Homo sapiens: one gene and its partners. The protein of the gene in region 1 purifies or fractionates together with the protein of each later gene. This does not show direct contact. Each region holds a gene or a part of one and is shown in the gene's direction. Other genes may lie near its edges.

The links.
Region 2: the proteins of FOXP4 (region 1) and TFDP1 purify together in Homo sapiens (affinity purification with mass spectrometry, with the first as the bait; one study listed by BioGRID). This does not show direct contact.
Region 3: the proteins of FOXP4 (region 1) and TOX purify together in Homo sapiens (affinity purification with mass spectrometry, with the first as the bait; one study listed by BioGRID). This does not show direct contact.
Region 4: the proteins of FOXP4 (region 1) and ZNF687 purify together in Homo sapiens (affinity purification with mass spectrometry, with the first as the bait; one study listed by BioGRID). This does not show direct contact.
Region 5: the proteins of FOXP4 (region 1) and NFAT5 purify together in Homo sapiens (affinity purification with mass spectrometry, with the first as the bait; one study listed by BioGRID). This does not show direct contact.
Region 6: the proteins of FOXP4 (region 1) and UBA7 purify together in Homo sapiens (affinity purification with mass spectrometry; one large-scale study listed by BioGRID and IntAct). This does not show direct contact.
Region 7: the proteins of FOXP4 (region 1) and ZMYM3 purify together in Homo sapiens (affinity purification with mass spectrometry; one large-scale study listed by BioGRID and IntAct). This does not show direct contact.

Annotation. Positions count from the first base shown.
Region 1 is NC_000006.12:41,552,881-41,556,380, forward strand, and holds part of FOXP4 (forkhead box protein P4), read left to right. Parts: intron 1-3,500. UniProt on the Homo sapiens protein: Transcriptional repressor that represses lung-specific expression.
Region 2 is NC_000013.11:113,639,363-113,641,973, forward strand, and holds the end of TFDP1 (transcription factor Dp-1), read left to right. Parts: intron 1-757; coding exon 758-905; 3' UTR 906-2,111; downstream 2,112-2,611. UniProt on the Homo sapiens protein: Can stimulate E2F-dependent transcription.
Region 3 is NC_000008.11:59,116,348-59,120,404, reverse strand, and holds the start of TOX (thymocyte selection-associated high mobility group box protein TOX), read left to right. Parts: upstream 1-1,257; 5' UTR 1,258-1,417; coding exon 1,418-1,519; intron 1,520-4,057. UniProt on the Homo sapiens protein: Transcriptional regulator with a major role in neural stem cell commitment and corticogenesis as well as in lymphoid cell development and lymphoid tissue organogenesis.
Region 4 is NC_000001.11:151,288,799-151,292,298, forward strand, and holds the end of ZNF687 (zinc finger protein 687), read left to right. Parts: intron 1-296; coding exon 297-473; intron 474-579; coding exon 580-742; intron 743-879; coding exon 880-1,209; intron 1,210-1,323; coding exon 1,324-1,436; intron 1,437-1,633; coding exon 1,634-1,775; intron 1,776-1,916; coding exon 1,917-2,411; 3' UTR 2,412-3,378; downstream 3,379-3,500. UniProt on the Homo sapiens protein: May be involved in transcriptional regulation.
Region 5 is NC_000016.10:69,568,966-69,572,465, forward strand, and holds part of NFAT5 (nuclear factor of activated T-cells 5), read left to right. Parts: intron 1-3,500. UniProt on the Homo sapiens protein: Transcription factor involved, among others, in the transcriptional regulation of osmoprotective and inflammatory genes. Binds the DNA consensus sequence 5'-[ACT][AG]TGGAAA[CAT]A[TA][ATC][CA][ATG][GT][GAC][CG][CT]-3'.
Region 6 is NC_000003.12:49,807,832-49,810,953, reverse strand, and holds part of UBA7 (ubiquitin-like modifier-activating enzyme 7), read left to right. Parts: intron 1-121; coding exon 122-202; intron 203-281; coding exon 282-437; intron 438-525; coding exon 526-691; intron 692-770; coding exon 771-976; intron 977-1,074; coding exon 1,075-1,139; intron 1,140-1,228; coding exon 1,229-1,412; intron 1,413-1,489; coding exon 1,490-1,564; intron 1,565-1,794; coding exon 1,795-1,978; intron 1,979-2,485; coding exon 2,486-2,568; intron 2,569-2,841; coding exon 2,842-2,934; intron 2,935-3,026; coding exon 3,027-3,122. UniProt on the Homo sapiens protein: E1-activating enzyme that catalyzes the covalent conjugation of the ubiquitin-like protein product of ISG15 to additional interferon stimulated proteins (ISGs) as well as other cellular proteins such as P53 in a process termed protein ISGylation.
Region 7 is NC_000023.11:71,241,633-71,244,140, reverse strand, and holds part of ZMYM3 (zinc finger MYM-type protein 3), read left to right. Parts: intron 1-160; coding exon 161-312; intron 313-1,056; coding exon 1,057-1,171; intron 1,172-1,716; coding exon 1,717-1,971; intron 1,972-2,508. UniProt on the Homo sapiens protein: Plays a role in the regulation of cell morphology and cytoskeletal organization.

The DNA of each region.
Region 1 (3,500 bases):
CCACTGCTGCCAACTTCCTAACTCACTCTTCGGCCTTAGGCATGACCCGTCTTCTCTCTGGGCCTCAGTTTTCCTAACTGTACAGTGGGTGAAGAGGACACCTGCAGCCCCACATCCTCGGGCTCACCATCCTGAAGCTGTGGGTTGGGAGCCAGGCAAGAAGAGACCTGAAGGTCTCAACGTACACCCTCTTTGTTCCAAGGGCATCGGGAGCCTACTTCCATGGGTCCTTCTTGAAAGGGGTGCTGTGGAGCTCGGGGCAGAGGACACTATGACCCATGCAAGTCTCCTCCTTCCCAATTAGGCAGTGGAGCCTGATTAAAAGGGGTGCTGCCTGCCCCCTCCCACCCGATCCCCATCGACGAGATTTCCCTTCATCAGAATCTCACATTCTCCAGAAATTAATTTGATGCCTCATGTTATCAATTAATTGAATCTCGTTGGGAGAGAGAGCTCCGCGAGGTGAGGCGAGCTTCAGCTTGGCCCTTGTGTGCCGCCATCCCCCCTCCCCCTCACACCAGGGCAGCCTTCTCCTCCCCCATTCCTTTTTTTCTGCCTTTCTTTTAATTGCACTTATTTTCTAAAATAAAACCACTGCTCTGTGCCCCTTTGCCCAGTTTGGCTTGGATGGATACCCATGGACTGGGTACTGGCTGGGATTTGCCCTTTCAGAGGTGGGGGCAGGAGGACTTCCCCTCCCCTGGACCCTGTCTGATCTCTCCTTAAGTAAACAGAATCTCACCCTTTGGGAATTTGGCCGTGATCCTGTGTGCTCCAGGGGCTTCTGGTGAGAAACTTAGGAGGACTAGGGGAGGGAGGAAGAGCTGGGAACAGACTGCACCCTAGTTGGGGACAGAGGAGGTAGAGAAGGACCAAGCTAGGGACCTTTTAACCCTCAGGATTTTGTCATTCAGAAGCTGCTGCCCCTGCCAGAACTGATCCATTAAAACACAGGGCAGAGGGCATAGGTGTGTGGTACCTCCAAGCCTCCCAACAGTCAGGTCAGATATCTGCAGGAACAAGCCCTCAGCATTTTCAAGGACACTTGGAAGCCCTTGCTCTGCCCCCTGCATGGAAGATGGGGGAAGGAAGTTCTAATAGGACATCCCTATTAGGAAACCTGGGAGGTTGTTGTGGCAGGTAGAGCTAGGTAGTCACCAGGCCCTGACTGAGGAACTGTGCTTTGCCGTTTCACATACCTCCTTGTTCTTATCCCCACAACAACCCTGAAAGATTCTCCAGGCAGTGGTAATTATCACTCTCATTTGATAGGTGAAGTACCCAGGCCCAGAGAGGTTACCTGACTTGCCCCGAGTCACAGTTAACTGGAACTTGCCTTTCTGAAATGCTGGCCATAAGGGCTGAGGTCACAAGTGGACTAACTTCATCCCTGCTGAGTTTTGTTGACCCACACACAGTTCATTACAATGGTAAATTTCACATAAATATCCCCACTTCTGCTCCTTTTGAAAAACCCAAGCCCTGTCAACACTGAGCCTGCATTTCTGTGTGGAAAGGATGGACTGGGATTGAGTGGCAGCTGCCTCCTCGTGCCCTCCTCACCTGGCCTCCTAAGTGACCAGCCTAGCCCCTGAAGGCATTTTGGTTAGCAGCTTTGACATGGAGATTCACCTGTCCCCAGTATTCCTCAAGGAGAATCTAGTGTGGGACAGTGTCTGAAGGACTCTGCAGGGTCTAGCCAGGCACAGTGGCTCATGCCTGTAGTCCCAGCACTTTGGGAGGCCAAGGCAGGTGAATCACCTGAGGTCAGTGGTTCAAGACCATCCTGGCCAACATGGCGAAACCCCATCTCTACTAAAAATACAAAAGTTAGCCGGGCGTGGTGGCAGGCACCTGTAGTCCCAGCTACTCAGGAGGCTGAGGCAGGAGAATTGCTTGAACCCGGGAGGCGGAGGTTGCAGTGAGCCGAGATTGTGCCACTGCACTCTAGCCTGGGCGACAGAATGAGACTCTGCCTCCAAAAAAAAAAAAGACTGCAGGGTCTGTACAAGAAGATCTCAGAGAGAGGACCTATAAGGACACCCTGACCCAAATCTAATTCCCACACAGCTACTTAATAACTGATGGTGGGATGGGCGCAGTGGCTCATGCCTGTAATCCCAGCACTTGGGAGGCCAAAGTGGGAGGATCAGTTGAGCTCAGTTTGAGACCAGCCTGGGCAATATGGTGAAACCCCCTCTCTACAAAAAATACAAAAATTAGGGTGTGGTGGCATGTGACTGTAGTCCCAGCTACTCGGGAGGCTGAGACCAGAGGATCACTTAAGCCAAGGAGGAAAGGTTGCAGTGAGTGAGCCGAGATCGCGCTACTGCACTCCAGTCTGAGCGACACAGAGTGAGACCCTGTCTCAAAAAAAAAAAGAACTGATGGTTGTGGGTGATTCTTTTTGCCTTCTTTCTACCACAGAGGTTAGGTCTTTGTACCATAAGGCCTTGTGTCTCCGGGGGCCTGTTTCAAGATGAAATCAGCGCATCCCTGCCAGGGTGAGCCCCTCTATGATAAAGTCATCACTTGCCCCCTACATCTGAGGAAATGAAGGGAGGGGCCAAGGCATGTCGGGGCAGGCTGGGCAGAACAGCCAGGGGCCCAGAAATGGCCATACTCAGTGGTTTGTCCCAGGCCCTCTAGAGCCCCTCCTGTGCCCAAAGGAAACCCTGGTGCCAAAGGCACCACCAGAACCAGGCTCCAGATGGCCATTCAGGCCCTGGGCGAATTGCCCCTACCCCTTAACCAGCAGGCCCCCCACATAAGACGTCACTATTTAATTAGCCGTCTCTGATTAACCAAACTTGGCATTCGGCTCCTCTTGCCCTCATCTTTCCCAGCTCCGAATCAATGGCTTTGATATGCTAATTAGGGAGTAATTTAATTTCAAAAGGCCGCAATTAACAAGGGTGTTGTGGACATGCTGTAGTTAAGCGGAGTAATCTAATTTGCATTAGTAACAAGCAGGGACTAATTAGAAGCTTAATTAGACACTTAGATGGCTCTTATGTTTACTTTCTTAATGAGATGGAGTGGGATCTTTGGTTCTCTTTCTTTTTTTCCCCCTGTATTGTTAATTCTTTTTTTTGGTCTGTGTAGTAGGAAGGGGTATTGAGGGAGGCCACCTTGCCAGGGCCTGTGGGAGCGTTTCAGGGATGGAGCCAGTAAAAGGTAAGGTGGAGGGTGGTGGTAGGGGTAAGGGAAGGCTTGGATTCCAGAGTGACTCGGGGAGTTAGGACGCGGGGAGGAGCACTGGTTTAGGAGTCAGGAGAGCCACCTGGTTTCAGTTTGGCTCAGTCACTTAGCAGTCAGGTAACCTTGTCAAGTCTTTGGCATCTTTGAAGTGTGGTTCCATCCTCTGTCAAAATGAGCGCAAAATTGCATGGGGGAGAGAGGAGGGAGGGGCTATAGGAAAGCACTCTTGGGGACTCTGTGAATGTTTTTTTTTTTTTTTTGAAATGGAGTCTCGCTCTGTTGCCCAGGCTGGAGTGCAG
Region 2 (2,611 bases), on another chromosome or scaffold:
TTTCATAGTGGCATGATGAGACATTTTATACAAGTACCTCATGAAAGGACATCTAGGTAGTTCCCAGTTAGAATAAAAACTGCAGTGAGCAGCTTTACAGCTGAATTTCTCGCCATTTCTGACTTGTTTCCAAGATACAGAATTACTTCATCAAAAGGCACATTAACACATTTTTATTGTAGTGTTAATAAATACCATTAAAATGTATTAAAATATGTACATATGGTTTTATGTTAATTGAAAACATCTTTAAACATTAGGAACGTAGTGAGCTCTGGTTGGTGGTAGGTTTTTGTGGTGCTGCCAGCCCTCTGGGTTCTCAGTCCCCGCTGCCAGATTCGACCCACGCTCTGGACTCCATCCTGTCCTGCCCCGGGCTCTCTTTTTTCCTGTTGCTGGTTATGAGTGAAAGTCCCGGAGGGAGGGATCTAATGGTTTTACAGTTTGTTCCCTCTGGGGCACTGCTCCTGATGGAATGATGAGTGAGGGAGAGGCAGCGTGTGGCTCTGCTCAGCCTCCTGTTTCTGTCGTTATGGGTTCCAGGAGACAGGGCCAGAAGAGAACCAGACAGAGATGGAGTAAGTGCCAGAGCGTTGGCGTGCTGTAGTGCAGACACTCAGCCTCCCCGTTCTGTTTGTGTGACTGACAAAACCCACACCTGTGGGGCACAGCCTGTCATTTGACCACAAGCCCTGAGGCGGGGGGAGGCTGGGTGGGCCGCCTGCACTGACGGCGCCATCCGCCTCCTGCCTTGCAGTGACCTGACCAACGGTGCAGATGGGATGCTGGCCACAAGCTCCAATGGGTCTCAGTACAGCGGCTCCAGGGTGGAGACTCCGGTGTCCTACGTCGGGGAGGACGACGAGGAGGACGATGACTTCAACGAGAATGACGAGGACGACTGACGTCCTCCCCACTTCAGATTCGGCTTCAGGAAAACGTTTAGCGAAAAGAAACTTTTTTTTTAATGTGGGTTTTCTGTTTCCTTTTGGCCTACTCCCAAGAAGATATTGGTAAGCTATTGAATTTAGATATGCACCTCTGATAAGCAAGGATTGTTTCCCGTAGGATTAGGACGTGCTGTGGATGTGTGTTTTGATACCAGTGTGCTGATGCAGAGCGTTTATTTACTTGTTAGGATTTTGTGTTTTCATTTGCTATTTTTCTTTAAGTGCAGAGTTCATTTTTGCCCCTGAAAAGTTTTTGCTGAGTTTGCTGAAGAAATTGTATTTCAACCACATCCATGAAAATAAAACACCTCCTGTTGTGGATGGTGAGCCCCTGATGCCGCTTATTTGCCGTGAGTTTGGACGGCACCCCTGCTGGCGGATAGCAAGACTCTGTGGAGTTTGTTCAGTGGTACGGTGTCCAAGCAAACAGCAGAATGCAACTTTCTAAACAGCCCCAAGCAAACAGCAGAATTCAACTTTTTAAACAATAAACACCATCAACCTTATTGACTTTATTGTCCCTTAAATTATATTGACTGTTGTGATTCCATCAAGTTTGTACACTCTTTTCTCTCCCTGTTTTGCAGCAACAAATTGCGAAGTGCTTTTGTTTGTTTGTTTTCGTTTGGTTAAAGCTTATTGCCATGCTGGTGCGGCTATGGAGACTGTCTGGAAGGCTTGGAATGGTTTATTGCTTATGGTAAAATTTGCCTGATTTCTTACAGGCAGCGTTTGGAAACCTTTTATTATATAGTTGTTTACATACTTATAAGTCTATCATTTAAAGACATGTACTGAAACAAATGTATTTGTTTCATAAGCATCTTCCTGTAATCTATTATAAAATTGAAATTAAATATAGAGAATGTTTTAACAATTTTTTAACTCAAAATTTGTCAATCATTTTTAATAGTTCTTTTTTTATAAAAAGAAAAAGGAATTTAAGGACAGGCAGTAGTCTCTTTTAAAATTTATTCACAAAACCCATTAACTGCACAGTTGCTATTAGCTGCCTGTTCTAAAACGATAGTCTTTTTATTGAAACACAAATAAACTTTTCTGTAATATTTTATGGTATATAAAGAGACTTTAATTGTTTGACTTGTTTAACTTGGCACTGTTAGTTTTTATTAATAAAACGCGCATGGGCATTTTAAACAAGCTGTGTTTCTCTAATTCAGGATTATTATCTAGAAATTTGTCTGTCTTGTTGGTTTTACTTTATACTTGAGTGAGAAAGTAGGTTGTTAGGCCCAGACGCGGTGGGCCCGGGTGGTCCCTGTGGGTGCAAACCCCACCACCACATGTTGTCTGAGGCACATCCTCCGGGAGCCCACCCTGAAAAGGTGGAAGGTGGCCAAGGGTGGAGGTCTTGGTGGACACAGGGCAAAGAGGCACCTTCCTTTTCGGTGCCTGTGGTGCAGAGAAAGATAAGCCAAGTTCCTTGGCCTTTTTTCACAATGAAAATTGAGACAAAATTTAAAAGTTTGACTTTGAGAACAAGAATAAGATTGAGAGGATTCTGGGAAGATGGTGGAATAGGGAGCACCAGGAATCTGGCTGCCCAGGTAGATGTCTACCTCGCGGGCAGGATCTGCCTGATGCAGCTGTTCTGTAACTACGGAATCTACTGAAGGCTTAAAGCTTTCAAGGGAGGCTTG
Region 3 (4,057 bases), on another chromosome or scaffold:
CGACCGGAGAAATGGGGAGGCGGACTCCAGGTCTTTCGTGGACTGCCAAGAGCCCTATAGGGCGTCCAGCTATAAAAAGAGAAGAATCCCATGAAGGACAACAAGCAAACTCATATGTTATCCCTTTAGCCGGATTGTGTGCTGATGATTGTTTCCCTATTTACACTTCGAATCACCCCTGTGGTCTTTTGTGAGTCCCCAAGGCAGCCTCAGCCTTCGCAAACCGTCCAGTGGGGCACGAATCTCGGAGGGGTGCGGGCTGCAGGCGGCAGAGGGAAGCCAAAGAGGGGCGGCTTTTCCAGGCCGTCCACCCCCAGGCGAGCTGGTCCTCACCCTTCGATCGGCTCGAGTCCCTCGGACAGTTGCCCACTCACAGCGTGCAAAGGGGTCGCACTCCCTGTGGGTTCTCCGCCCTCAGAAGCGGCGCTGCGCAGGAAAGTCACCTCCACTACGGGCCGGGAGTAGGGAGGGGAGCACAGTGACAGGGTTGGGGAACAGCCGAGGAGGAGTGGGGGTCGCGGAGATAGGGGTGGGGACGGCCGCGGAGAGGGCGGTGGGAGTGGGGTGGGGCCGGGGAGGGCCGGGGGCGGGGCTGCGGGGCGGGGTGCGCCACAGCGCCCCCTAGCTGCGCGCTCCCCACGGTGCCCTGAGGCCGCTGGTGGCTCTGGCTCGGCAGCCCCTTTGTGTGCGACGCGCTGGTCCCGAGGAGCGCGGCACGGGCACAGCGGAGGCCTCCCAGGGTCCCACCGCTTCTGTCCCAGCCAGGCCGTGCTCTCCTCCTTCTCCTTCTCCGCTCCTCCTTTCTCCGGTCCCCGGCCTCTGGTTCCGAACAGCAGCCATTGGGCCTTGACGAGCCCGCGTCCGGCCGCGCTCCCTACCCCGCCCGGCCCGGGACGCTCGCCCCCCTCCCGCCCTGTCCCTTCTGGATCCCCGCCCCACCCCCCCACCCCCCACATCCCGGGCCTCCAAGGTGGAGAAAATAAACTACAAGCAGAACAACTCAGAATCTCCAATAAAACGCCCAGTACCTAGAGCCCGAGCGCGTGTGCCGGGCTGCGAGGGGCGCGGGAGGCGGGGATGGGGGGGCGGGCGGGGGGGACAATGAGCGCATGAAGTTACCTGCCCGGCGGCGGCGGCAGCGGCGGCGGCGGGACCAAGAGGCGGCGGTGGAGCAGGCTGCGCGCTCGGCGCCGACGGGTGCGCGCCGCGGCTTGGGGGAGAGTTGAGCGCTTTTCCCCCCTCTTTTTTTTTTTTTTCCTCTTCTTCTTAAACAAACCACAAACGGATGTGAGGGAAGGAAGGTGTTTCTTTTACTCCTGAGCCCAGACACCTCACTCTGTTCCGTCTAAGCTTGTTTTGCTGAACACTTTTTTTTAAAAAAGGAAAAAGAAAAGGAGTTGCTTGATGTGAGAGTGAAATGGACGTAAGATTTTATCCACCTCCAGCCCAGCCCGCCGCTGCGCCCGACGCTCCCTGTCTGGGACCTTCTCCCTGCCTGGACCCCTACTATTGCAACAAGGTGAACGCTCTGCTTTTGTTTCCACCGTGTTCTTGCTGCTTGATCCTGGGAGGGGAGCGGCGGTGGCCGGGCCGCGGCGGGGCCGGCTTGGCGGAGGCCGGTCCCGGGCGCGCTCGGCTCGCAGCCCGCTGCAGCCTGCGTGCGCTTGGGTAGTAAATATTGTGGAGTAGCTCCGGGGGCTTGCCAAACACCGCGATTGTGCGGAAAGTGACACGATTTGCTCGGATTCTTTCCTTCCTGCTGTTCGCGGCTAAGGATCCCTGCCTAGGTTTGCCGGGGGGCGTTTAAAAAAATAATAAGAGAAAACCGTGGAATACTTTGGGGGTGTGTCTGGGGTCCAGGAACGGAGGCAGAGTAAGAGAATTCAGTTTATTTCCCAGTTCCCCCTTCTCTCTCCCTCCCTCCCCGGGCAGTGGGGGCTCGTGGCACCACTTCCCTTCTCCGGATTAGTTGCCAGGGGAGCAGCCGGGAGTCGGGGTGCAGGGACCTGGGAGGCGCCCCTGCCCCCCACAGGGAAAACTGCCCCACAACTCTTTTGTTTTCTCAAACCGGTTCCGGCAGCCGAGCCCGGGTTCGGACACAGGTCCGCGGGCCAGAGCACAGCGGGGTAGCTGGGTCAAGGTTTGGGGAACAGTTCCTGTTTAAGGGGTGCGCGCGGAAATTGCAAGTTTGTTGGGAGCCGGGCGAGCACGTCGCGTTCAAGTCCAAAGCTCCCGCACTCGCGGAGCAGGGTCCGCGGCTGAGCTGTACCCACGGCCCGCTGACCTCGGGTGCCAGGGCCGCGGGGGCCCGGGGAGAGGCGGATCATGCCGGTGACCCGGAGGTGGGGCGCTGGCCTGGGCTGCTGCGGAGTTCGGCTGGGTCCACCTATAGGACAGTCAGGGGGTACGAGGGAGGGGGTTACTCTCCCGGCTTCTCGAACTCTCTCATCCCAGAGAGGGAGGACACGCAGGGACCGGTCCCCCAGAGTGGTCGCAGGGGCACGACTGCCCACGCCTAGGGCTAGTTGGACGTGTCTAAGCAGTCCCGTTGGATGAACGTTGGCAGAGAGAATTGAGTTCTCTAAAACGCTGGGCGGGCCTTTTAGACGCCCAACTCTCGCTTGGTGATAAATCTGCCTGATACTCACAGCCCCTGCAGGCACATCCATGGCGACCCTCGGTGCATTCCACGGGAAAAATCGTTGGGACTCCCAACATTTGCCTGGTGGCGAGTCATCACCAAACGGCTTTTTTACCTGATACAGAGATATTTAGTGCGCTGCCTTCTCAGCCCTGGACTCCGCACCACGCGACCGAGTCGCAGCTCCGAGTCTTGGACAGTGTTGACACACAGGCAGGCTCTCACACACACACTTCCCCGTGGAGAAGCTCCTCGATGCTGTGTCCAGTGTGAGACCCACTCAAAGGACTGTGCTGTGTGCCGATGGTGTTTAGGCAAGTTAGAAAAGAGGGACATCCAGTCTTGAGCAAGGCAGAAGGGCTTCCATTGTACAGGGAGCCCTTCAGCTACGGGCAAGTTGAAAGGTACGGGGAACTTTGGCAAGCGCATAGGAGTTTGTGTGATGAAGTTTCATTATTTGCTGGTGACATAGTTCTTTTAGTCTAAAATCTGTTTTGTCTGTACACTCAAGTATTGTGTTACGTTTTATTTTGCTTATGACACCAATACTATTGCTAATAAAAAATAATAAAGTTGCAGCCCTATCTTGGAGAGTAAAGACTTATTCCACTGTAGTTACCGGAACCAAAAGCTCAGAACTATTTTGGCAATGAGACTGGACAAATCTTATTAAGTTTATCAGTGATTTTAGGCCCCAAAAAGAAGTTAATGACTTGGATACACATTTCACTCCTCGTTCTTGTGATAAGTAGGGTCAGATTTAATTTAAAAGTTAAATGCTTTGGAAAATCAGGAATTACTTCAATATATTAAATCATTTTCCAATTAAGTGCTTTAAATAATTTTAGTGGGTTGTGCTGTGAATTGAATAAATTAATTTAGAAAGTATTCAGAATTTCTTTACTAGCTCATTGAAGTTCCTTTTAAGTCACCCCGTGTATAAGAAGCAAACTGTTCTTTTTAAATGCAAATTAGGCACCCTTTCTGTAGACTAGTTGCGAGTCTTCTATTTAACTTATCCAGAGAATAATAGATTTTTTAAAATCCAAAGTCATAAGACATGTTTCTAATAGTGGAAGAAGACTTCATGGAAATGTTTCTCCAGGGACATCTCTGGCCCATCTCTGTGTAGCAGTCCATCAGATATATTTGTCACTGGTCCCGATTATATTAAATGTACTGGATAGTTTTCTAGGCCCCACAAATCCCAGGCACTTGAGTTTTTTCACTCCACCATGATTAGCATTGGTACAAAATTTCTGTCCAGCTCCACAATTGTAGTTGTGCATAATGCAGTCAACTAGCATTTGTTTTTGCAATGACATGAGTGGATTTGCAGGGAAATGGAAGAAGGACAGAAGTTTGGAAAAGGTGAAGTAAGAAATCTGTGCCTACATTTATTAAAACAAGTTGGAT
Region 4 (3,500 bases), on another chromosome or scaffold:
TATATCCCTCAGCCCTGTTGTTTTGCCAGACTCAACCCTGAGATAGTACGTCCTGCCTTCCCGTCGTCCCCCATGGAGATGGGGGGAAGCAGGGCCACCTCTGGAGCTCCAGCTCTCCCTTGGCAGCCTCCCTTGGGGCACAGCCTCTGCACCTCTCTCCTTTCTCCACCCTGCTCATGCTCCACTACTGATTTCCTTCTTGTAGTCTACCCAGTCCCAGAGAATAAATGTATGGTCCCGGGGTGGGCATGGAGATGCCTCCCACCTCACCACAGGGCCTCCTGCTTCCTCCCTAGGTGCCCCAGCTGTTCAGTGGTGTTTGGGGGTGTGAACTCCATCAAGTCCCACATCCAGACGTCGCACTGCGAGGTTTTCCACAAGTGCCCCATCTGCCCCATGGCCTTCAAGTCTGGGCCAAGTGCCCATGCCCACCTCTACTCCCAGCATCCCAGCTTCCAAACTCAGCAGGCCAAGTGAGGCCCGGGGGAGGGCCGGGCTGGGCCAGGGAGGGCTGGTGGGGCGCAGGAGGGGAGGGGCTGCACCCAACCCTGCCTGATGTCTGCACTGTCCTCACTTCAGGCTGATCTACAAGTGCGCCATGTGCGACACAGTCTTCACTCACAAACCCCTCCTCTCCTCACACTTCGACCAGCACTTGCTGCCCCAGCGTGTCAGTGTCTTTAAGTGCCCGTCTTGTCCTCTGCTCTTTGCCCAAAAAAGGACCATGCTGGAACATCTCAAGGTACAGGAGCAGAGGGATGGGGAATGGGTGCTTAGCTGTACTGACCTGGGGCTGGGGCCACATACTTCAGAAGTGGGGGGCTTTGGCATAGCCAGGCCCTCCCCCACAACAGCAACCTCCCTTGTCTCCTCTCACAGAACACCCATCAGTCTGGGCGCTTGGAGGAGACTGCTGGGAAAGGGGCCGGGGGTGCCCTGCTGACCCCCAAGACTGAGCCTGAGGAGCTGGCTGTTTCTCAGGGAGGGGCAGCCCCTGCTACTGAGGAGTCGTCTTCATCTTCAGAAGAGGAGGAAGTACCCAGCTCCCCTGAGCCCCCCCGTCCAGCCAAACGGCCTCGGCGGGAACTAGGGAGCAAAGGCCTCAAGGGTGGGGGTGGGGGGCCTGGAGGCTGGACCTGTGGCCTGTGTCACTCCTGGTTCCCTGAGCGTGATGAATACGTGGCCCACATGAAGAAGGAGCATGGCAAGGTGAGTGGGCCCCAAGGGGAGTACCATGGGCTGGGGGCAGCATTGGGACTGCCAGTGTGACAGTGGGGACGGGGTCCTGGAGCCTGGCTCTGACATCTACCCCTGCTCTCCTAGTCAGTGAAAAAGTTCCCCTGTCGCCTGTGTGAGCGCTCCTTCTGCTCCGCCCCCAGCCTGAGGCGCCATGTCAGAGTTAATCACGAGGGCATCAAGCGAGTTTACCCCTGCAGGTAAGTCTTGCTCCCCGCTTCCTCTTCCTGCCCAGCACGTGACTCTCCCTGTATGCCAAAGTACCTGTGCACCTGCGACGTGTCTAAGTGGCCTGATGGTTGGGGTCTCCCTCTGCTCTGGCAGCCCCCTCCTCAGAAGCAAGGGCCCTGGCCTTCGGGCTGTGCCGCTGCTGCCATCCTGTCCTCTCCCATTTCAGGTATTGCACAGAGGGAAAACGCACCTTCAGCAGCCGCCTGATCCTAGAGAAACATGTCCAGGTCCGGCACGGCTTGCAGCTTGGGGCCCAGTCCCCTGGCCGGGGGACCACCTTGGCTCGGGGTTCCAGTGCCAGAGCCCAGGTAGGCAGAGGCCCGGCCTGCTGTGCTAGGGCTTTGAGTGGGAAACTGGAAGGCAGAGACCATGGCCTCAGGAAGCGAGCATGGGGGTGCCAGGGACAGTAGGGGTGGTGGTAAGGCCCAGTTTCTTCCACTTTTCTTCAGGGGCCAGGTCGGAAACGCCGCCAGTCTTCTGACTCTTGCAGTGAGGAGCCTGACAGCACGACACCGCCAGCCAAGTCCCCCAGGGGCGGACCTGGATCTGGAGGCCATGGCCCTCTGCGCTACCGGAGCAGCAGCTCCACAGAACAGAGCCTCATGATGGGGTTGAGGGTGGAGGATGGTGCCCAGCAGTGCCTCGACTGTGGCTTGTGCTTTGCCTCCCCTGGCTCCCTGAGCCGACACCGTTTCATCAGCCACAAGAAGAGACGGGGTGTGGGTAAAGCCAGTGCCCTGGGGCTGGGGGATGGGGAGGAAGAGGCCCCTCCATCAAGGTCTGACCCCGATGGTGGAGACTCACCCCTGCCTGCTTCTGGAGGCCCACTGACCTGTAAGGTCTGTGGCAAGAGCTGCGACAGCCCTCTAAACCTCAAGACCCACTTCCGCACGCATGGCATGGCGTTCATCAGGGCTCGGCAGGGGGCTGTTGGGGACAACTAGTCTCCAAGGCCTGGGACTGACCAGCCCCTTCCTCTTGGAGCCTGGTTTTCCCTACTGCTGCCTGATCCCTCGGCTGGGGAGTTTTCATTAACATTAATATTTTGTTAATTCCTGTCTCTCCAACCTGAAGAAGAAGAGCATTTGAGGATTATTCTAGTTATTTGCAACCTCCCTTTGGGTTTGGCCCTGGAGTCCTAGTAGAGTGGACCCTCCATTCCTCCTTTCTGAGCCCAACACTAATTAATTTTATGCTCCTGCTGCAGAACCCCCAGTGTGGGCCTGGGGGTGGGAGGATGGGACTTAGGTATGCCTGCTAGACAGGTTCAGGGAAGGACTGATGGGGGTGTCATGGATGGACACACCTCTCCACAATTCCTTCAGGCATGGACTGGAACTTTCCTCCTCTAGGCCGGGCCCTGCCCTAGTGCCCACCCCCGCCCCCGCCCCCGCCCAACCCCAACTCACTGGCACTCAAGCCCCCTACCCCTGCAGTGCCTTTCACTTCTTTTTTTCCCCAGAAATCCGGGGCGGGGGGGTGGGGGGTTGGTAGGGATGAGTCCTGTCAAGGGGGCCACAGGAGAGGAGGGGACAGGCTCTCAGGAATCCTTTATTCTTGTAGTAATAATAATACTAACAAACAGTTGGGGAACTAGGGAGAAAACCAGACCATTAAAACTGTTTGTGGTCGAATCTCCATTCAGGCCTCTCTTTTTCTGTGACTTGGACAATGTGGAGTTGAAGCGGGTGAGAGAACATGGAAGGCCCGCCCTTCTCAGGGAAGAGGTGGTAGTGACCAAGACAGGCAGGGAAAAAGCAAACTTCTATGTAGTGCCTTTTGTATCTTGGACACTGAGGCATCCGTTCATACCTCATCACCCATCTCCCCCTGCACTCCCCCAGAAAACCTGGAAATGACACAAGTGGCTAACTAAGGACTTTATTTCAAACAAAAATTAAAAATAAAAAATTGAGAGCTCTTTTCCCTGGGTTTGGGGAAGGAGTCAGGGTAGGGAATTCCACATGGCTAGGCCAGTACCCTCAGTACACTGGAGGGCTGTGGGAATTCCCTTCCTTGCCCATGATGGGGAA
Region 5 (3,500 bases), on another chromosome or scaffold:
ATTATTTATTGCAAAAGCATTGATGCCATTGTTATTGCATTATACTTAAGGGTAAGGAAAGCCAAGTAATAGCGATGATGATTGAGCTATGCTTAGAAGAAAGGGGTTTAGAAAGTTCTGGAAATGTTAATAGAGTCTGTAGATTAGTTTAAACAGCTTACACTTACTTTAGAAAACTTTTGGCTTTGTGTGTGTGTGTGTTTTAACATTTTAAGACATAAAATAGTCTTGTGTTTTTGTAGATTTTGAAGTGATTTCACATATATCATCTTTAAATCTTTATAATTTTGGAATTGGACAGCAAAGGTACTAATTTCCCCATTGTAGAGAAGAGAAACTAAGGCTGAAATTAAGAAACCAAAAAAAAAAAAAAGTCCCACAGTAGAAGAAATAATACTTTCTGCGTTTCAGTTAGTGCTCTTTATGCAAAGCGGCCACCGTGAAATACACATGTAACCAGTAACAAACATTTTATGGTCTACTTTAAAAAGGCCCTAAATATTTAAGTTTGACTTGAGAAGATTTTTGCCTCCCTTGGAGGTAGTCCGGGATAGTGGGGGGCAAGTGGGTTTTGTAGTTGAGCTTAAATTTGAATACCAACTTAGCTCCTTATTAGTTCTGTGACTTCGGGCAAGTGATTTTACCTCTCTAAACTTTAATATTCTTCCTGTTAAAATGTAGCTGTCTCTTAAATTTAGTGAGCTAATGTGTATTAAATTGCCTAGCATAGCGTCTAGCTTAATAAATGTTAGTTTTTTCCTTTAGTATCAGCTAAATTTTTTTAACAGTATAATTTAGAGCATATAAAATGTTCTCAAATAAATAATTGGTTAAATTTGTTTTGTACGTGTAAGAAGCCCATAGATATACATTAGTATGAAAATCAAATATTTTTAAAACTACAATTTGAAGTGAGAAATTTTTAGCAGTGTTTCTTAGTGAAGCAGATTTCTGGTTTTTATTCATATTCAATTTGTGACCATGTTGTAGAGACATATTTGTCTGTACAAACCCATCTCATTTCCTGGACAACAAACCATAGAGTGTCATAATCATAGAGATGATCAGGGAGGAGAAAGACATGAAGAAAAAAATGAGTGTTAATTATTTAAGCAAATATTTTTAGTGAGCTGATGGAAATACAGACAACCATTTAGCATGTTTATTTACATGTTTATGCCTAAATACTTTCGTTAATTTTTCATTTTAGTTAAGGGGATTCTCATTTAAAGTAAGGCTACCCTTTTAGAAATTATATATAAAATATAACATGTATAAGTATCAATTCTGTCATGCCCTTTAAAATGTTTTGAGACAGGGTGTCTTAAAAAAGTTGTTTGCTTCTGTAATGAAGTGTCTAATCTGTGCCACCTCATTGCTATTTCTTTTTTATTATTGACATTTTAAAGAATACATAAAAGTAGAGAGAATAAAATAAGCCCCATATACCCATCACCACAGTTTAACCAGTATCTAATCTTGCTTCTTTTATCCCTTCTTCTCTCTCAAGCTGGATTATTTTAAAACAAATATCAAACATCAGATCACTTCATACATAAGTATTTCTGTATTACAGTGACTTTCTTATATTAATTATTATTGATATAATTTAATTGTTAATATAATTATTGTATTAATTTTTAATTACTCTGTATAGTTTATAAACTATTTCTTGGAATATTCTAGTTTATTTCAGCAAAGTCTCTTGTGACTCTCCTGCCCTCTTTTCAAGACAGAGTGCTGCAGGAGGCTACCGCTTCTAGTATATAGTATATCCTATAACCTATGTTGAAATTGTAGGCCATGCTGCTAGATTGGAGTTCATATTGTTGCTCTGACATTTACTTGTATGGCCTTAGCCTAATAATTTAATCTTTTTTGCTTCAATTTTCTCATCTTTAAACGGGAGCAATAATAGTGCCTCATCCTAGGTTTTTGTGAAGATTATTTGAGGCAAATTCGTGTAAAGCATTTAATTTAGCACATGCTAAGTGCTCAGTAAATGTTAGCTAAAGTTAAAAAATTTTTAAAAACTAAATGCTAGCTGTAGAGTGTTTACTGTGTGCCAAGAACTTTACAAATAAGAACTCCTGAGGTGGGCATATCACTTGAGGTCAGGAGTTTGAGACCAGCCTGGCTAACATGGTGAAACCCCATCTCTACTAAAAAAAAAAAAAAAAAAAAAAAAAAAAGCCAGGCATGGTGGCATACACCTGTAATACCAACTACTCGCGATGCTGAGGCAGGAGAATCCCTTGAATCTGGGAGACAGAGGTTGTGGTGAGCCAAGATCACTCTACTGAACTCCAGCCTGGGTGACAGAGTGAGACTCTGTCTCAAAAAAACAACAACAAACAAACAAACAAACAAAATAAGAACTCAGCGAATTCTCCTGACTACCCTTTGAGATGGTTATTATTATCCTACTTTAGAGATGAGCAATTGAAGGCATAACTCACCCAGAGTCACAAGCTAGTAAATTGTAGAACCAGAATTCCAACCCAGGTAGTCTCACTTTAGCCTAGCCTCTTGACTACTGTGCTGTACTAACTCCCAATGGTATATACTATCAAGTTCTGTCTAGTAATATTTATGTATGCATGTTTTACATCAGTAGTCTAGATTTTCATCTATAAATAGTATTTAAAAACTTGGCCCAGAGTGAGGGGAATTTAAGTAATTGGTGTGATATAATTTAATTTTTTTATAGAACGTACGTTTTCCAAATTTAAATTTTTTTTTTGGGGGGAAACAAGGTTGGAAAACCTGCACTTGGGTATTATTATTATTATTTATTATTATTATTTTTTTGAGATGGAGTCTTTGCTCTGTCGCCCAGGTTGGAGTGCAGTGGCACGATCTCGGCTCACTGCAAGCTCCACCTCCTGGGTTCACGCCATTCTCCTGCCTCAGCCTCCTGAGTAGCTGGGACTACAGGCGACTGCCACCACGCCCGGCTAATTTTTTTTGGATTTTTTAGTAGAAACAGGGTTTCACCATATTAGCCAGGATGGTCTCGATCTCCTGATCTCGTGATCCGCCTGCGTCAGCCTCCCAAAGTGCTGGGATTACAGGCGTGAGCCACCGCACCTGGCCTGCGCTTGGGTATTATTAAACTTTAGAAGTAGATTCAAAATGTCTACTATTCAACTGAGTTTGCATTTAACCTTCCTATCAAAACAGTGCTAGTCTTTCTTGCAACCTCTTTTTAAATTTAATACGATGATTGCCTGACAATGGGAAAAGGGTCCTGGCTAATTAATTAATGTTATAATACATGGCCATTAAATGATGTTTCTGGTAACCCCATAATTAACATGTGACACTCTTAATAAAATAAGTAAATAAAAATTATGCTGTTACAATTATATTCAAAGTAACTTGTGTTACAAAAATCCTGAACAAAAGTATACATCACTGATTTTCTATTTTTCAATTCTATTTTTGTATTTTCCATCTTTAAAGAACATGGTTTATATATTTTTTTTAAATAAAATTGT
Region 6 (3,122 bases), on another chromosome or scaffold:
GTCCAAAATCAGGACTAGGGGAGAAGCATGAGGAATGCCCTCCAGGTCCTGATTCAGAAAACTCAGTATAAGAAGGAGATGCAGGCCAGTAGCCATCACTGACCCCGTCTCTGTCCCCTAGAGAGGCAGCCGCTATGATGGGCAAATTGCAGTGTTTGGGGCTGGTTTTCAGGAGAAACTGAGACGCCAGCACTACCTCCTGGTGAGCTGTGGGGTGAGACTGGGGGTGCCTTTGGGAGAGCCAGCCCAGCCCCTCTGGCTAAGGCTGTTCCTGCCAACAGGTGGGCGCTGGTGCCATTGGTTGTGAGCTGCTCAAAGTCTTTGCCCTAGTGGGACTGGGGGCCGGGAACAGCGGGGGCTTGACTGTTGTTGACATGGACCACATAGAGCGCTCCAATCTCAGCCGTCAGTTCCTCTTCAGGTCCCAGGACGTTGGTGTGAGTGCTGACCCCTCTCCACACTCCTGCATCCCAGACCGTCCTCCCATACAGCTTCCCACCCAACATCTTCCTGCCTTCTTCCCAGAGACCCAAGGCAGAGGTGGCTGCAGCAGCTGCCCGGGGCCTGAACCCAGACTTACAGGTGATCCCGCTCACCTACCCACTGGATCCCACCACAGAGCACATCTATGGGGATAACTTTTTCTCCCGTGTGGATGGTGTGGCTGCTGCCCTGGACAGTTTCCAGGCCCGTGAGTGCTTGACTTCGGAGGTCAGTCCCTTGCCCACAGCTGTGCCAGTCCCACTTCTGACCCACTGCTCCCTTGCCAGGGCGCTATGTGGCTGCTCGTTGCACCCACTATCTGAAGCCACTGCTGGAGGCAGGCACATCGGGCACCTGGGGCAGTGCTACAGTATTCATGCCACATGTGACTGAGGCCTACAGAGCCCCTGCCTCAGCTGCAGCTTCTGAGGATGCCCCCTACCCTGTCTGTACCGTGCGGTACTTCCCTAGCACAGCCGAGCACACCCTGCAGGTAGGAAGCACCCTGGAGACTCCCACCCCACCCAGCTCAGCCCTCAGCTGCAGACCTGTTCTCCACCTGATACCTCATTCTTCCTCCCTCCTCCACAGTGGGCCCGGCATGAGTTTGAAGAACTCTTCCGACTGTCTGCAGAGACCATCAACCACCACCAACAGTAAGGCCACCAACAGAGGCAGATGGGAGTCCAGGGCTCCAAGCATGAGTCTGCAGGACTCAGTCTCACACTTCCTCCTCTCTCTGCAGGGCACACACTTCCCTGGCAGACATGGATGAGCCACAGACACTCACCTTACTGAAGCCAGTGCTTGGGGTCCTGAGAGTGCGTCCACAGAACTGGCAAGACTGTGTGGCGTGGGCTCTTGGCCACTGGAAACTCTGCTTTCATTATGGCATCAAACAGCTGCTGAGGCACTTCCCACCTAATAAAGTGTGTGGCTAGGGGTTGGGACGCTGGGGGCTCAGGGGGACCAGACTGAGCCCAGCAGCTTCTACTTACCTACCTAGGTGCTTGAGGATGGAACTCCCTTCTGGTCAGGTCCCAAACAGTGTCCCCAGCCCTTGGAGTTTGACACCAACCAAGTGAGTGGGATTCTGTAGGGAGCTCCAAGATAGAGATGTGGCCCCTCAGAGCAGAGGTAGGCATTTCTGCATTCTGCAGAGATGCACAGATGCCCAGAGAGAGCCATGCTTGTGCATATATGGGTGTCTACATGTGAGGCAAAGGCAGGCACTCAAACAGATCCACAAATGGACAGTGACCCCCACCCCATGCACCCATGCCTCTGTTCCTGCTCTTGGTCTGGCTGCAGGACACACACCTCCTCTACGTACTGGCAGCTGCCAACCTGTATGCCCAGATGCATGGGCTGCCTGGCTCACAGGACTGGACTGCACTCAGGGAGCTGCTGAAGCTGCTGCCACAGCCTGACCCCCAACAGATGGCCCCCATCTTTGCTAGTAATCTAGAGCTGGCTTCGGCTTCTGCTGAGTTTGGTGAGGCTCCTGGCCCTGGCCCCTCATGCTGTCTTTCAAAGGCCTGAACCTGTCCTGTCCTCAGCCTGTGCTGCAGAAGGAAGATAGGGCCTAGGGGATCTACAGCCAATTTGCTACCTCTCAGGCCTCCTAACCTCACTCCTCCATAGTTTCAGGCTTATCCTCTGGTCCCTCAGTAGGTCTTCTCCCTGCTGCCTACCCCACATCCCAGTTCTTGTGGCAGATTCTTGGCAAAATAAATAAGTAAATAAATAAAGTCCATTGGTTCCTGGGGAGTGTCTAGCTATGGCCTGCAGGTGAGGACAGGGTCACAGAGGTCATGAGCACACATGGGTGAAGACTGGGGCTTCTAGAGGGGAGATTGTAGCATTAATTAAGGGGGCTTCTTGATTTGATCAGGGAATAGTAAGTGACAGGCTTGGCAAAGACCAAGAATAGGCACAGGGCTCCAAGAAGAGTGCAGGAGACAGGGGCTAAGGACTGCCTCAACATCCCCTCCCCTGACAGGCCCTGAGCAGCAGAAGGAACTGAACAAAGCCCTGGAAGTCTGGAGTGTGGGCCCTCCCCTGAAGCCTCTGATGTTTGAGAAGGTGGGTGCCCAAGTGGCAGTGAGGAGTGGGGCTGGGGAGTTTGTGGAGAAAGGTCAGGAGCTAATAAGGTAGTTTTGGAGCCCCTTGGCCTGAATTCTCCCAGCAAGACCCTGGAAGCAGCTCACATTCCCTGAACCTCAGCCTGTCTGATCAAGAGGAGATGTGGGGCAACCCCCCGACAGAACTGTGTGGAGACTTGTGCAGTGACACGCAGTGGGCCACGGTGAGGGGCACAGCTGCAGTGTTAACACTACTTTGACTTGGGCCTTACAGGATGATGACAGCAACTTCCATGTGGACTTTGTGGTAGCGGCAGCTAGCCTGAGATGTCAGAACTACGGGATTCCACCGGTCAACCGTGCCCAGGTAACCCCACCCCTTGAGGCTTGGGCCTGGAGGTGGAGGGCAAACCCTGGCCCTACGCCTTGGGCCCAGACCAAATCTCTTGTCCTTGGCAGAGCAAGCGAATTGTGGGCCAGATTATCCCAGCCATTGCCACCACTACAGCAGCTGTGGCAGGCCTGTTGGGCCTGGAGCTGTATAAGGTGGTGAGT
Region 7 (2,508 bases), on another chromosome or scaffold:
AAGGGAAATGCTGTCTAGGTTCCAGGTTAGGGGCTCTTTCTGTAATTGTTCAGGAGCTAGGCATGACTAAGGGATGGAGGGGTTAATGGTGATGGAGCTAAGTGAAATTCTCCATGTAGAGTTTTTCTTAATCCTGTCCCTGCACAACATATCACTGCAGCCAAACCCATGCGTATCAAAGAGGATATTCTCGCCTGCTCAGCTGCTGAGCTCAACTACGGTCTGGCCCAGTTTGTGAGAGAAATCACTCGGCCCAATGGTGAACGATATGAACCTGACAGTATCTACTATTTGTGTCTTGGCATCCAGCAGGTACCTCTTGTGCACCACCTCACTTCCTGTCACTCTTAACACAGCAGGCAGGGTCTAAACAGAAATGATTCTGGGTTAGGCACGGTGGCTCACGCCTGTAATCCCAACACTTTGGGAGGCTGAGGCAGGAGGATCGCTTCAAGCCAGGAGTTTGAGACCAGCCTGGGCAACAAAGTGATACCCATCTACCCAAAAAATATTTTTTTAATGAAAAAAAAAAGCAGTTATTCTGTTGCACTCCCTGTTCCTCATCTTGTCCCCTACCTGAAGCAGGCAGCTTGCCTTTAATCTCCTACTCCAAATAGAACATGAGATATCAATACTCTTCTAAAATCAAAACTGCATTCCAGGACCGTTGGCCAAGGAGCAGTCTTCATTGCTATCCAGGTCCCCTTTGTAATCTTTAAGCCCATTCTAGGAGGGGAGGGATGGGTGGAGCTGGGATCCTTGAGTGCTGGGGTAATGTTTAGTTCCCCCTGGGAGAAGTCAACCATGTATTACCTGAGAAGGAGGTGTGGGCTTCTAAAGAACATCTCCTCCAAGCCTCCTCCTCTTCGAGCAAAGCCTGAGTAGCGCAGAGCTGTGGGTATACCTGGGGGAAAGCACTCGAGGCCACCTAATCAAGCAACTGTTTCCCATCGTCTCCTAATGATCAAGGACACCATACCTGGGGGCTTCAGCATCATTATCTTTCTTCTAGGACCTACAGTCTAGCCTTAGGTGTGTCTGTTTTTCTTTCCCCAGTACTTGCTGGAAAATAACCGGATGGTGAACATTTTCACGGACCTTTACTACCTGACTTTTGTTCAAGAACTCAACAAGTCTCTGAGTACCTGGCAGCCCACACTCCTCCCCAACAGTAAGGAACAGGGACGTAGCAACCCCTACCCGCTTTCTCCATTCTTCCAATCCACCATCCCGAGAGTCCTGTGCTGTTTGGTCTGCCACTCTTCACAAAGGGCCCGAGGGCAGGAGCGTGTAGCTGGATGCCTCAGGGTTTAGAGTTAAAGGAGCACAGGAGCGCCTGTTCTTGAACGTGAGATGGGGATCAAGACTTAGGTCTGAAGAGCTATCTCTAGGACCAGAAAAAGATGGCCTGGGTTTGGGTGGTAAGTAAAGAAAGAAAGCAAGAAATCGTGGGACTCCTCAAGGTTTACATTTACTTGTCTACAACTTGAGGGTGGTGAGAGGCGTTCCAAATGCAGGTGTGGAAAGTATATATTTTTTAAAGCCCAGTCCCACTGTGTAGTGTAGCAAGTGTAGCGAAGTGACAGTGTTTTATATACAAAGGTTACTCACCAAATGAGAATTGTGTGGGAAATGAGCAGGGCACATGGGATGGGAAGTGGTTGGGTTTGGGTAGCCACTCCCTCCTGACTGGCCTCTCCCCCTTGACCATTGTAGATACGGTGTTCTCTCGAGTGGAGGAGGAGCACCTCTGGGAGTGTAAGCAACTGGGGGTCTACTCGCCCTTTGTCCTCCTCAACACCCTCATGTTCTTCAACACTAAGTTTTTTGGGCTGCAGACAGCTGAGGAACACATGCAACTCTCCTTCACCAATGTGGTGCGGCAGTCCCGCAAGTGTACCACCCCTCGGGGCACCACCAAGGTGGTGAGCATCCGCTACTATGCCCCAGTCCGCCAGAGGAAAGGGCGAGGTACGAGGCTGCCCCCTCCCCTGTGCTTTTGCCCCTTCTCTGCCTTCCCCTTCCATGCCCTGCCATAACCCACCATACCTGCCAGGTCGGCCCTCTCCTTGGCGCCTAGCTTCCCTCTCCTGTTCCTGTGTGCAGAAAGGGTAGAAACAGCCAGTCCTCCTACCTGATAGGCAGTAGCTGTTGCATAAATAAGAGGTCACCCTCTGGCCTGTTTCCCCTCTTTCCTCATTTAAGACAGTTTACTTGCTTGCCTGCTTTTTCTGGGTGGTGGACAGGTAGGAAACCATTGGGTGTGTTTGGCTGTCGGGGAGGGTAGAATGACAGGCTTTCTGTGATTCTTTGCTATCGGGTCTAACAACAACTGCACCTTGGTTTCCATTTTTTCTGTCCCTGGACTTCTGTCCTGTCTGAGTGAAGTTTCCAAGGTCCTTTCTCTGGACCCATGCTTCTACCTGGACTAATGCACAAGGGGTTGGGGTCATTGCTGTTTCTCTATCCCAGAAGGCAAGCCCACCCTTGCAGTAGGGTCTGTTTTAT